4 linked regions of the Homo sapiens genome follow. The protein of the gene in region 2 interacts with the protein of the main gene of each other region in a pairwise test. Each region holds a gene or a part of one and is shown on either strand. Other genes may lie near its edges.

The links.
Region 1: the proteins of PLP1 (region 2) and MYADM interact in binary tests that used the Homo sapiens proteins (3 or more experiments, as listed by UniProt).
Region 3: the proteins of PLP1 (region 2) and CREB3L1 interact in binary tests that used the Homo sapiens proteins (3 or more experiments, as listed by UniProt).
Region 4: the proteins of PLP1 (region 2) and TMPRSS2 interact in binary tests that used the Homo sapiens proteins (3 or more experiments, as listed by UniProt).

The regions. Positions count from the first base shown.
Region 1 is NC_000019.10:53,870,736-53,873,967, reverse strand, and holds part of MYADM (myeloid-associated differentiation marker), read right to left. Parts: exon of another isoform or gene 3,136-3,232; intron 441-3,135; 5' UTR 439-440; coding exon 1-438.
Region 2 is NC_000023.11:103,789,854-103,793,199, reverse strand, and holds the end of PLP1 (myelin proteolipid protein), read right to left. Parts: intron 2,674-3,346; coding exon 2,602-2,673; 3' UTR 581-2,601; downstream 1-580.
Region 3 is NC_000011.10:46,318,639-46,321,968, forward strand, and holds the end of CREB3L1 (cyclic AMP-responsive element-binding protein 3-like protein 1), read left to right. Parts: intron 1-1,625; coding exon 1,626-1,890; intron 1,891-2,071; coding exon 2,072-2,108; coding exon of another isoform or gene 2,109-2,259; 3' UTR 2,260-2,771; downstream 2,772-3,330.
Region 4 is NC_000021.9:41,477,100-41,480,805, forward strand, and holds part of TMPRSS2 (transmembrane protease serine 2), read right to left. Parts: intron 3,504-3,706; coding exon 3,377-3,503; intron 2,184-3,376; coding exon 2,073-2,183; intron 1-2,072. UniProt on the Homo sapiens protein: Plasma membrane-anchored serine protease that cleaves at arginine residues. Participates in proteolytic cascades of relevance for the normal physiologic function of the prostate.

The DNA of each region.
Region 1 (3,232 bases), on a different chromosome or scaffold from region 2:
GATGCAGGAGAAGAAGGTGGCGGCGATGGCGTGGTCCCGCGAACGGCCGTGGGACAGGAACTGGACATAGGTGGTGGGGTAGATGATGGAGGCCGAGAGGCAGAAGAGGGCCGCATAGCAGGCGAAGGTGATGGGGAAGTTGCGCCAAGACAGGGGGAAGCGGGCCTGGAGCCCGCACAGCTCCACGATGAGGATGATCAGGGTCACGGAGAAGCAGAAGCACCAGGTGAACATGGACCAGTTGCCCATGGACCCCGTCCAGGCGCCCACGCTAGCCACCAGCGAGAAGGCCACGCAGGTAGACACCAGCTGCAGCAGGCGAAGGAGACCCAGGGGCTGTGTCAGGGCCCGAGGGGACCCCACGATCATGGGGGACCCCAGGCCCGAAGATGACGTCGTGGTGGTTGTGATGGTGGTGCGGGTTACCGTCACTGGCATGGCTGCAAAAAGGGGAAAGACAGTGTCCTTATACAGTCACAAACATAAGAATCCAGGTCCCTTAGCCATTGCCTACCCCAGGGACAAATTAATATGAGCTCTAATTAGGGAGTTCCCAAGATGTGGGGCTTTCGGTTTTCTTTTCTTTTTTTTTTTTTGAGACAGAGTCTTGCTCTGTGGCCCAGGCTGGAGTGCATTGGCACAATCTCAGCTCACTACAACCTCTGCTACTCAGGTTCAAGTGATTCTCCTGCCTCAGCCTCCCGAGTAGCTGAGATTACAGGCATGTGCCACCACGCCCGGCTAATTTTTTTGTATTTTTAGTAGAGACGGGGTTTCACTGTGTTAGCCAGGATGGTCTCGATCTCCTGACCTCATGATCCGCTGGCCTTGGCCTCCCAAAGTGCTGGGATTATAGGCGTGAGCCACCGGGCCCAGCCTTGGGTTTTCAAATGGGGACAGTCCTGGGCATACAGGGATGAGCCTGTCCCCTCCGGTTCAAGGCTCACTCCTCCCCTACTCGTATCAGAATCCAGGAGTCTAGGCCCCTATTTTCCTCCTTCTCAAGAGATTCTTCTCTCTTTCAAGACCTAACTACTGTACAACTACACTGTTTGCTTCCCACTCCAGATACCGTGCTTCCCTCTTTCCCTCCCTCCCCAAGGGACTCAGTAGCTCAGCCATTTAGCACTCTGTACTCTATAGCACCACCCCTCTGGCCAGGCACAGGTGTGGCTGATGCCTGTAATCCCAGCACTCCAAGAGGCTGAGGCAGGAGGATTGCTTGAGCCCAGGAGTTGGAGACCAGCCTGGGCAACCTTAGGGAGACCTCATTTACCAAAAAAAAATTTTTTAATTAGCTGGGTGTGGTGGTGTGTGCGTGTGGTCCCAGCTACTCGGGATGCTGAGGTGGGAGGATTGCTTGAGCCTGTGGGGTCAGGGCTGCAGTGAGCTGTGATGCACCAGTGCACTCCAGCCTGGGAGACAGAGTGAGACCCTGACTCAAAAAAAAAAAATTTTTTTTAATTACAAATAGGCCGGGTGTGGTGGCTCACACTTGTAATCCCAGCACTTCGGAGGCCAAGGTGGGTGGATCACTTGAGGTCAGGAGTTGGAGACCAGCCTGGCCAACGTGGCGACACTCGGTCTCTACTAATAATACAAAAATTATCTGGGCGTGGTGGCATGCACCTGCAATCCCAGCTACTCGGGAGACTGAGGCAGGAGAATCACTTGAACCCAGGAGGCAGAGGTTGCAGTGAGCCAAGATAGAACCCCTGCACTCCAGCCTGAGCCACAGAGCCACACTCCGCCTCAAAAAAAATAAAATAATCTGGGCGCAGTGGCTCATGCCTGTAATCCCAGCACTTTCGGAAGCCGAGGCTGGCAGATCACTTGAGGTCAGAAGTTCAAGACCAGCCTGACCAACATGGTGAAACCCCGTCTCTACTAAAAATACAAAAATCAGCTGGGTGTGGTGGTGGGCGCTTGTAATCGCAGCTACTTGGGAGGCTGAGGCAGGAGAATCGCTTGAACCCTAGAGGTGGAGGTTGCAGTGAGCCGAGATTGCGCCACTGCACTCCAGCCCGGGTGACATGAGTGAAACTCCATCTCAAAAAATAAAATAAAATAATAAAAATAAATAAAATAAATAAAAAATAAAGCATCCTCCTTCTGCCTCCTGCCACAACCCAAGTGTCAGAACAAAACGCTTGTCTTCCACAGGCTCTGAAAACCCCATCTCTCAACTTCCTTTTCTTTCAGTATTCAGAGCTCTGCACCCCAGACCCTGTGAGCAAACTTCCTTCTTCCATCGAACAGTGACCTAGACATTTGCAGCCTCTAAACGGCCCAACCTCCCCAGGCTTCCACTCTCAGGGACCCACATCTAATAAGAGCTCCGACCTCCCGATAAAGGATATCTTCTCATAGAGATCCCAGCCGTGGAAAACCAAGAGATCTCCCCTCCCTTCTGACAAGGAGCCTAAACTCTTAGCGGCCTCCTCCTCTCCCTACCCCCCACCTTGGAGATTAGCAACCTTCACTCTCAGTCTAACTCCCACCTGAGATTTAGGACTGGAGTACTGCAACCCAAAAAAGCTAGTTTGAGCCTCCCCCTCCACACTCCTGCATACTGAGTCCATCTACCTCCACCTTCTCTCCCCAAAACCCAGCCAGCTGGTCCCCCAGCTTCTGGGAAACTCAGCTCCCCAGATTTCCAACTGTCCAGTAGGAACCCCAGGCCCTTCCACTGAACTCTCTCTAGGCCTCACAATCCTGTTTTTTGGTTGTTGTTTTTTTTACATGGAGTCGCTCTGTCACCCAGGCTGCAGTGCAATGGTGCGATCTTGACTCACGGCAACCTCCGCCTCCCGGATTCAAGCGATTCTCCTGCCTCAGCCTCCTGAGTAGCTGGGATTACAGGTGTGTGCCACCATGCTCGGCTAATTTTTGTATTTTCAGTAGAGATGGGGTTTCGCCATGTTGGCCAGGCTGGTCTCAAACTCCTGACCTCAAGTGATCCGCCCGCCTTGGCCTCCCAAAGTGCTGGGATTACAGGCATGAGCCACTGCGCCTGGCCATCACCGTCCTGTTATAAGGGGTCAGACCTCTGGCCCTGGACCCTTAGCCTGAAGGATCCCAGATGCCCCAGACTCCAGAAAACCAATTTGCTTCTTTAGTCCTTGCAAAACCTACAGCTTCCACCTCCTTGTCCTAATGGCCCCCAGGAATCAAGTGCCCGTCCTCTTAGAAACCAGGTGCCCAGTTCTTTCCTTAGGCTGTAAACTGTCTC
Region 2 (3,346 bases):
AGGTGTCACTAATTTATTTTAGTACTGCCCTGCCACAGCCTGTTTACATTTACGTTGCCCTTTCCATACCTGCTCTGTCCTTTAAGTACTAAACCTTCCATCCAGTACTATCCAAATAAAACTAAATATTAGTCACGTATGAATTACTAAGGGATCATTACTGGAATATCCAAACAATTTAAAGAGAAGGTAACAATAACTTAAATCTAAATGCACCGGGGACTGGGGCACCACTAAGGTATTGAAAAAGTAACCATAGTTGACTCTGAACATTCTGAAACCCAACTTCGAAGAGAAAAGAAACCTTTAAGTAGGCAATAAATTGGTTTCAATATCTGCGTTTTAACACAAGCTCAGACATGTACTTACTGGATTTCTTTGGGCAAATTACTTTGCTTCTATTTCTTAGTGTCTTCAACTATAAAAGTAGAAGTAATCTATTCATATACTATTTATTTCAGAGAAATGTTATGAGAATGACTTGGATGAGCTGAAAAATGAATGATCTCCTTGAACAAGGTACGATTATTAAGTTTCTATTGTGAAGTCAAATAGAACAATTCACTCAAAGGACACGATGTTTGATTGAGAACATTCTTAATTTTATTTTCTTTAATTTTATAAAATACACTTTGTAAGATAAGTTTCTAAAAGTTTATCCTTTATGTGTGTTAAAATTGCAATTCTATATCAGAAATGAAGGAAACACTTTCAGTTGATTAACTCTCTTTGTGTGTGTATATATGTGTATGTATGCATGTGAGGTTTTCAGGGAAGGGTTGGTTATTTGTTATGTTATTAAATCAAAACAAAACACAAGGTACGGATTACTTCACTGTCCTTTATCTTGATTGGTTTCTTACAAAACATTTTCCCTCTCCTCCTTCTATGCAGCCTGGAAGCTTATCTTGTATACTGGTTTGAAAACAAGTATCAAGTGTCTTTTTGTAAAGCTCTTACATCTCCTTAAATATTGCTGAAACCACTTTGGGGGAAAAGAACAACACAACTCTTTACAACAAAAGAACTGTAGTACAAATCTTTCCTTCAATTAAAACCAATCAGACTTTTTTTTTTTTTAACCCAAAGTTAACAAAAACAGGAAAAGACTGAAATCTGGGAGCTATTCAGGTCTCAAACTCTTTCTGCCTGTCCTTTTTCCTGGAAGCTTACCAACTGAATAGCTGATGACTGGTGCATTCTGTTATGTGATCTATATCAGGAGAAAATAACCTTTATGTTAAACCTAACTCTTAACACACCAAGATAACATTGCTAAGTAAAATCATTTTCCATTAGCTAGAAAGAACGATCAGATTACTCAAATTGAGATTCAAATTCACCAAATCTGTTTCTGCAAAGGCAGAATACTTGTAGAAAATCCCAATAGATTCAACTAGCCAATTTTTAATATCATTTGTGATGCTTAATGTCCAATTTTCCTAGTTTAAAAAACAGTCATAATCAAAGAATTATTCTCCAGACATTTCTGATGCAACCCCAAATAAGTAATAAACAAACTGGAATACATGAAATGTGCATCATTCTAAAACAAATCAAGACCTTCAAATCACCTACGATGACTGAATGGATAATACCCCATGAAATGAGCACCATTGTGAAGATATGACAGAGGCCAGAGTACACAACTAATTAACAGAAAAAAAGACATGCTATCCAAAGAGTTATCTATCCTGTGTCTACCAGAGGGCCATCTCAGGTTACACCATTAGCCACCAGCAACTGCTGCTCCTCAGGCCAGTCTGTTCTCATGTAAGCTAGTTTCCTTCTATTCTCAGCTCCTTGGAAACCACAGGGTTGTCATGGTAGCTGTTATCAAGGAGAAGGGAGTGAGAAGATGCTGACAACACCCTGTTTCTCTTCCCTAACGAGGTGTAAGGCCAGATGCCCCCTTCGTCTACACAGATTCTACGCTCCCTTATGCTGTAAGTAAGGTTGGCTGAGTTAGGGCTTCAGTAGTCCATCGCCATCGGGGTCAGTGCTCTCTTTCTGTGGGTGAAAGATCCTTGCTTTGACCCCCTTCTCCCAGCTGCAATAGGCAGATTTGGGCAAACGCTCTTATTGTTTTTCTGACATTCTTTTTTCTTCTATCTTCAGTGGTAATAGAGAGACCAGAATGAATTCCATTTTGTACACCAAAGAGAATATATTTGGCCCCTATAGATGGCAAGAGGACCAAAGACATTCCTTCTCTGTACCTGAGCATCTTTCCTTCCACTTTGTTTCCATCAGTGGAAGTACCCTTTGAGAAGAAATTACTTTCTGATCCTCAGGAGATGCTTGAAAATTCAATTAGAGCCTCCATTCCTTTGTGACTTGCAGTTGGGAAGTCATCTTCTTAGGCATTTCCCATTTCTAGCAGGAACCAGCTATGAAGCAAAATGACTAAAAGAGGTACATAAGAGGGGAGAGTCCAAAGAGAGACCTTAATCACTGCAAGACTCTCCTTTCTTGTTACACTCATCAAGTAAGAAGAGGGCCAGTTGGTGGCAAAGGCAAAGAGTTAAGATGGGAGACGCAGCATTGTAGGCTGTGTGGTTAGAGCCTCGCTATTAGAGAAAGGGGGATTTCTACGGGGGATCAGAACTTGGTGCCTCGGCCCATGAGTTTAAGGACGGCAAAGTTGTAAGTGGCAGCAATCATGAAGGTGAGCTGTAGGGAACAGAAGAGAGAATGTGAATGAGAGTAGAAAAGAAAGCACTCCCTCCTCAAATCCCTTTGGGAATGAGGAAGGGTAGAAATAAAATCATAACTAAATAAGGGAAAAACCCATGCTCTGCAAAAAGCAGTACATCCCAGGCTTGGCTTTCTCCATATACACTTGACTGGAAGTCCGATGTCTCTGAGGCATCATGGGTCTCATGGCCCAGGCCCAGAGAATCAAATCATAAAGATTTATTCCACACCTCTGTTTGATCTAGCACTGAGTTTTCCTCAGGGAAGTGAACAATATTTGGGCTTTGCCACATCAATATGTCCGAGTGACTTAGAGTCATAGGGTGCTTGCTGTAGACACACAGCCACATCATGCAGTAGAGCTCTCCCCTGGTTAATGAATCAATTCGTTTTACAAGGTGAGAAATTACTTGACTCTGTATGGAAACCTCAGCAGTAGGGGCCAGGAGTTCTGTGAGCTCATCTTGTCTGATCACTGCTTATAAAATAACTTCAGATAAATCACTTCACCCTTCAGTGCCTTAGGTTTTTAATCTGCACAATGAGCACACTACATTCACAGGGCACTGTAGCACTATCAGCAAGACCTGGGACATAGCATTGTATTATAATCATAACAATTCTAATAATGTTAGGAGGTCCTCCCAGT
Region 3 (3,330 bases), on a different chromosome or scaffold from region 2:
AGAAGAGTGTGGATTTCAGACGCAGAGAATCCTTCAGGTGGACCCACAGAGGAACTTCCTGGCTGTCCCTCATCACTTACCAGTCAGTCACTTACCAAGAACCACGTGTCTGGCAGGACAGGAGGAGGAAGAGGAAACAGATGGGAGGTCAGAGGAGGGAAGATTAAGGAGTGAGTTTCAAGAAGGAGGGATATAGCAGGGAGGATGAGCTAGACGTTGAGGGCCTTGAGGGGAGGAAGCTGGTGTGGGGAGGGTTAGGGAAAGAGGAAGTAGAGACAGGGAGAGTGAAAGCTCCTCCCCGGACACGTGCAGGCTGAGGAGGAGAGAACGGGGTGGTCACTAAAGGCGGGTGGGCAGCAGCAATGCAAGGTCTGGAGAGCCATGTGTCTGCTTTTCCAAGGCCACAGAAGCCACTGGAGAAAAAGGAGTGGAAAGAGAGCTGGGGTTGATGGATAAAGCCACAGTGAGAGGAGGCAATGAATGAGCCCCTTGGAGGGAAGGCAGTGGGTTTTAGGCCCAGGACCTGGGCTGGGTGGAGAGGAAGACACATCCCAGCAGGCAGATGGCTTTGGAGCAGGCTGGTTTGCAGAGCTGGCGCACTGCGCAGTTCCAGGGACCTCTGTTCACACAGACTATGAGGTCATGGCTGCAGAGCCGGAGGGGCAGCAGATCCCAGGGCCAGGCAGACCTGGGTTCGCATCCTCCCTTCAGGGAGGACAATTTCCCTGAGTGCCTGGAACTTCAGCTGCCTCCTCTGGGAAGCGGGGCTAAAGAAACCTCATTCCCTAGAGTTTCTCTAAGATTTTAACCACTCTACTTAGGTCTATGGGCCTTGGATAATGCCTAACAAATGATGGGTGTCCAACAAATGTTTGTTTTCCTTCTCTGAAGGGCAAATTAGGATCTAGAATGGGGAAGAGACTTATTCCAGGTCTCACAGAAAGTAAGTGGTGGACTGGCCGGGTGCGGTAACTCACTCCGGTAATCTCAGCACTTTGGGAGGCCAAGGTGGGAGGATCACTTGAGGCCCAGGAGTTCAAGATCAGCCTGGCCAACATGGTGAAACCCCGTCTCTACTAAAAATACAAAAAGTAGCCAGGTATGGTGGCACACACCTGTAGTCCCAGCTACTCGGGAGGCTGAGGCAGGAGAGTCGCTTGAGCTCGGGAGGCGGAGATTGCAGGGAGTCAAGATCCTGCCATTGCACTCCAGCCTGGGCGACAGAGCAAGACTCTGTCTCAAAAAAAAAAAAAAGGGAGATAGAGCAAGTAAGTGGTGGAGGTTAGAACACAGCTCCCAGATGCCCAAACTCAGTACCCTCTGCTAGGAAGAGGTGACTTTTCTGAGTATTTCCTGAACACAGTTTCAATCACTTCCCCTGTATTACCTCATTTAAACCTCTCATTTACATGAGGTTGGTCCTAGTATCCCTATTTTACAGAAGAGCACACTGAGGCTCAGAAAGTTTAAAGCAAAGTGTGTGGCTTACCTGAGGTCACACATCCGGGAAGTGTCAGAGCTGGGACTCAGATCCAGGGCCTGCGTCCTTAACCACTAGGCCATGAATGTGGCCAGGATGTTGAGGGAATCTTGGGCACACCGCTCATCCTACACTCCCTCTCCAGTGCCCTCCCGAAGCCTCCTATTCTACGATGACGGGGCAGGCTTATGGGAAGATGGCCGCAGCACCCTGCTGCCCATGGAGCCCCCAGATGGCTGGGAAATCAACCCCGGGGGGCCGGCAGAGCAGCGGCCCCGGGACCACCTGCAGCATGATCACCTGGACAGCACCCACGAGACCACCAAGTACCTGAGTGAGGCCTGGCCTAAAGACGGTGGAAACGGCACCAGCCCCGACTTCTCCCACTCCAAGGAGTGGTTCCACGACAGGTGGGGTGTGTGGCCCCTTTCCCTCCTGAGGTCTCAGGCTCCACCTGCCTCCTGCCCACCCTTGGTCCCCACATTGGCCACACCCTCCCAAGGCCCCATCCCTACTTGGTCTAGATCCAGCTTGCAGAGGGTAAGAGGGTTCCTGCTGGACAGTCATCGCTGGCCTCTCTTCTCTCTCCAGGGATCTGGGCCCCAACACCACCATCAAACTCTCCTAGGCCATGCCAAGACCCAGGACATAGGACGGACCCCTGGTACCCAGAAGAGGAGTTCTTGCTCACTAACCCGGATCCGCCTCGTGCCCCTGCCTCCTGGAGCTTCCCATTCCAGGAGAAAAGGCTCCACTTCCCAGCCCTTCCTTGCCCCTGACATTTGGACTCTTCCCTTGGGCCGACCACTCTGTTCTCATTCTCCTTCCCACCAACATCCATCCGTCCTTCTCAGACAAACCACTCACTGGGTACCCCACCTCCTCTCTCATATGCCCAACACGACCACTGCCTCCCTGCCCCCACACCTGCACCCAAACAGACACATCAACGCACCCCACTCACAGACACCCCTTACCCCACCCCCACTGTACAGAGACCAAGAACAGAAATTGTTTGTAAATAATGAACCTTATTTTTTATTATTGCCAATCCCCTAAGATATTGTATTTTACAAATCTCCCTCTTCCCTTCGCCCCTCCCTTGTTTTATATTTTATGAAGTTAGTGCGGGCTTTGCTGCTCCCTGGCCCAGGAAAGAGGGACTACCTGACCCTCACCTGGCACCCCCCTGCTGCTGCCCAAGCCGCTGGGCCTTTTTAATTGCCAAACTGCTCTCTTCATCAGCTCAGCACATGCTTTAAGAAAGCAAAACCAAAAAAAAAAAAAAAAAGATGCAGCATCAACTCCTGACTTTGTGCCTTTCTTCATTGGAGGGGAGGGAAAGTAGAACCAAAGGGCAGGGGAACAACAAGGGTAGGTTGATTTTATGTTCTGGCAGGGGGTGTGGGGGTATAGGAGTATGAGAAGGCATTTTTTTTTTTTTGTAGAGGTAGGGTCTCGCTATGTTGCCCAGGCTGGTCTCAGACTCCTGGGCTCAGTCTGCCCACCATGGCCTCCCACAGTGCTGGGATTACAGGCGTGAGCCACCATGCCCAGCCTGTTCACTTTTTATTTTCCAATATTTTGTTGACTGATTTGTTATTTCCTCTTCTGTCTTTGGGCTTTATTTATAGCTTTTATATGTGTATGCTTTTATTTGAGGATTAGGAAGATAGTTTAGATAAATGTTTTTTATCTGCCTATTTAAGGAGAACCCCATGTATGTATGTATGTGTACATGAATGAATGACAAGATCTCGCTCTATTGCCCAAGTTGGAGTCCAGTGGTGCAATCATAACTCACTGTGGTTTCAAAATCCTGGGCTTAAGCAATCTTCCACCTCAGCCTC
Region 4 (3,706 bases), on a different chromosome or scaffold from region 2:
GTTATGGATGAAGAGGAAGTAACTGATGCATTTTGTCCTGCAGTGAATTTCCCAGGCTATGCTGAGAAGGGAAGACGCGGCCCCTGGCATGCAGAGCTGGCCCGCCCTGATAGCTGGGCCGTGTGCTCTGCGGAACCTGAATTATTTCACTGAGCGTCAATATCGGACTAGGCCCCTCCATGCCTGAGATGGGGCAAGACACAAGGAGCCTCCTCCGAAATGATGTCTGAACAGACAGAACAGGAACCTTGTGCTCACAACCACAAAATCACGATCTGATGTCTCCTCCTGTCCTGGCTAACTTGAGCGACGGACGTTTCTTTACCAATCACAGCTTTAGCCTAGCCTCATTCCAACCTCCTCCTAGAAAAAAAATAATAAAGCAGCCTCACAGAATTACCCCTGCTTCCTGACAGCATCCAATCCAGAGCAAATCTCTGCTTCCTCCAACCACCCCCAAACCACCTTGCAGGAGCCCAGGCCCTACAATAATAGGTCCTTCCTGACACCTTCTTACTAAGGCACACCCCCCGGGTTCTCAGTGACTACAGGTGCATTCCAGGTGGACTCTGGCTCTGGGGCACTGACACGGCCAAGTGAAGACATGTCCCCTTTAAGAGAAGACATTTCCTAAGAATCCTAAGGTCGGTAGGGATAGCCCTGTGTGGTCACAGCGCCAGGGCACATGTGGTTATTCACAGAAGCCCGACAGAAAACAAGCCAAGAACTCAGGCATCAAAGGGCAACTGCTGCACAGAAAGAGGAAAAGAAGTGCGCCTCCCCCCACCACCACCACCGAGATAGAATAGAGCCTACCAGACAATGGCCTTCTCTTCTTTCTTCCAAGCCCTCCAGCCTCCTTGTGAGTTCCCAAGGCTCTTGCCAAGGGACGGCAGCACCTCCTCCCCTCCCCCCGTCCCTGCCCGGCTGGACTTGGCTCCCTGATTCCGTGTGTAACCCAGAAAGACAAAGAACCACTCAGCATTTACAAAGTGCCCAGGCAGCTGTGTTTAGCTTCTCCACAGGGACAAACCGCAGCCCTGCTGTTTTGATGGGTGCACCTGGCCGTGCACAGCCCTCCCCACTGGGCTTGCCCTGCCACATTCCCCAGGACAGCAGGCTGCAGTGGAAGTCAGGCCCCCAGACCCCTCCACCAGCGGCCTCCAGGAATGCAAACCTGCCCCAGGCTCCCACTCAGAGGAAAGGTGGCGCGGGGTGATTAGTTCATCCTCCCCCGAAATGCAGCACCTGGCACCTGGCAGGCAGGGAGGTGATGCCTAGACACCAGGCATAAGCCCTGGGGACCTGGGAGGCAAGGAGAGCTCATGGGCAAAGGACACTGTGTATCTTTCACATCAGAAAACACATAACAGCAACAATCATAGCAAGTCTGCAAACATCCTAAATATGTGCAAAGCAAAAGGAAGAGCCTAAGTCCATCCCCTCTTCTGCCCTCCCAGCCAGGTCAGCCACTCATCATGTGACCTGTGGCTTGTACCCACTTCTACCCCCTGGAAACACCACAACTCATTCCCAGGCCGCCAGAATGCTGCCCATCCCTCACAGAGCACCCTCTGGCACTGCTGTCCCGGGGTTGGGGCTAACGGGACCAGCCAGCCCAGCTGCCTGGAATGGAGCAGGACTTCCCTTGCTCAAGCCAGTGAAGTCCCTGGCAAACTGGAATGAGCCGGTCACCCTGGCTGGGACACTGAGACATTATCTTGGATTCCTAGAACCACGCCCTGACAAAATAGGTACACCTCTAAATGTCTGAAGAGGAAAGAAAACTAAATAGAGTTGAATGTCGATGTTGCAAGTGTGAGCCGCTACCAACAAGGGCAGACGGTAGAGGCTGAAAATGAAATAGCAGAGAAACCTCAGCCACTTCCTATGAATAAACCAAGGGCTGCTTAGAGTAACCAGGCCTGGTCAGACTCTAATCTCCTCCCAATGCAAAACCCATCCAGACCGAGTATTGCAGCTCAGAGAAATCAGACTCAGGACAACGATTCCCCATGGTGTCTCCTAGTTGATTTCATTCCAAAATTTTTCAAGAAGAAATTGCTGCATACCTGTGGTACAGTTTTTTATAGATATCGACATTGCCGGCACTTGTGTTCAGTTTCATAAAGCTGGTGGATCCGCTGTCATCCACTATTCCTTGGCTAGAGTAAAAATTATTCCTAAAAAAGAAAACCTTATTTGTGATAATGGTTAAGGCATAAGCAAACACAAATCCTATACTATGTCATAATACCGCTCATACGACATTCAGAATAAGAGGGAAAAACCTTAGCATTTAGGAAAAAAAATCACACGTTCTAACCAAGTGCTAGAATATTGTAACGATTTTTCGATTCAATAACCCTAAAGTGTCAGACAAAATTCCTTCATTGGTCGTGTTTCTTATCCAGGTTAGGATCAAGAAACTATGAGAAGGACATAGGATTGTATAATCATACACACATTTAATCTAATAAAAGGTACAGATGTTAACATGGCCCCAGTTATCAATTCCACCAGGTTCCTGGACTGTGATGGGGGGGCTTTGCTGTGTAATTCACCCCTGCTGTTTAGGGATGTCACAGTGACTAGCTAAGATGCCAACTTTCTCACCGAGTGGTAATTCATTCTGAAAACTGGCATATTGAATACCCTAAAGTTGCATAGAAATCACCTGGGGACCCTCCCATGGAAAACAAAGTGGCAGTAGCATCCTACCACCCTCTCCCCCGATGCCTGAGGGCTGCCGCATCTCCCCAGGCAGTGCTGGTAAATGGTAACCACCGCCCCACCCCCGTTAGGAATCACTGTCAGGCGACACACACCCTGTTAAGCCTTCCCACCTTCCCTCAGAGCTACGAGCAGGAATGACATTTTTTAAGTATCAGTCTGATTGATTGATTCTCTCCCCAGCTCAAAAGGCTTCCATGGCTCCCGAATGAAGTGAAACTGGCACAGGATTTGTCTCTGCTGCTCTCCCCAGCCCAACCCTCCTCGCCAGCTGTTCTGGTCCAACCTCTACCCAGGGAGGTGAATGGACCCTGGCTGAGAGGCACCTTGGAAAAAGAGGCACCTAACGCCCTCAGCCTACCCCTCTGACCAGATGACCACAGCACTGGGCACTCCCGAGCAACCAGGAGTCTATAGAGGCCAAGGAGGAGGCAGGGCAAGGTGGCAGTGAGCCAAGGTCTGTGTGCTGGGCACAGCCCTAGCAGGACAAATTCCACCTGCTGGTTATAGGGCTCAGCTTTTGGAAGGTGACAATTGTCCCCAGCACTCATGTGCCGGTGCTTTCACAGGGAGGCAGAGAGAGGGTCTTCTCGTGTTTCTGCTGTCTGTTACTGTCACTCGGCGGGTGCTGCCCCATACTCACTTATAGCCCATGTCCCTGCAGGCCGCCCGCCCGTAGTTCTCGTTCCAGTCGTCTTGGCACACAGGGTGCCAGGACTTCCTCTGAGATGAGTACACCTGAAGGATGAAGTTTGGTCCGTAGAGGCGAACTGCACGAGAGGGAGGATTATCCATGAGTTTCTTTCTTTTTTTTTCTTTTTTTTGAGACGGAGTCTCGCTCTGTCACCTAGGCTGAAGTGCAGTGGTCTGATCTCCACTCACTGCAGCCTCCGCCTCCCAGGTTCAAGTGATTCTCCTGCCTCAGCCTCCCGAGTAGCTGGGATTACAGGCGTCCACCACCCCGTCCAGTTAA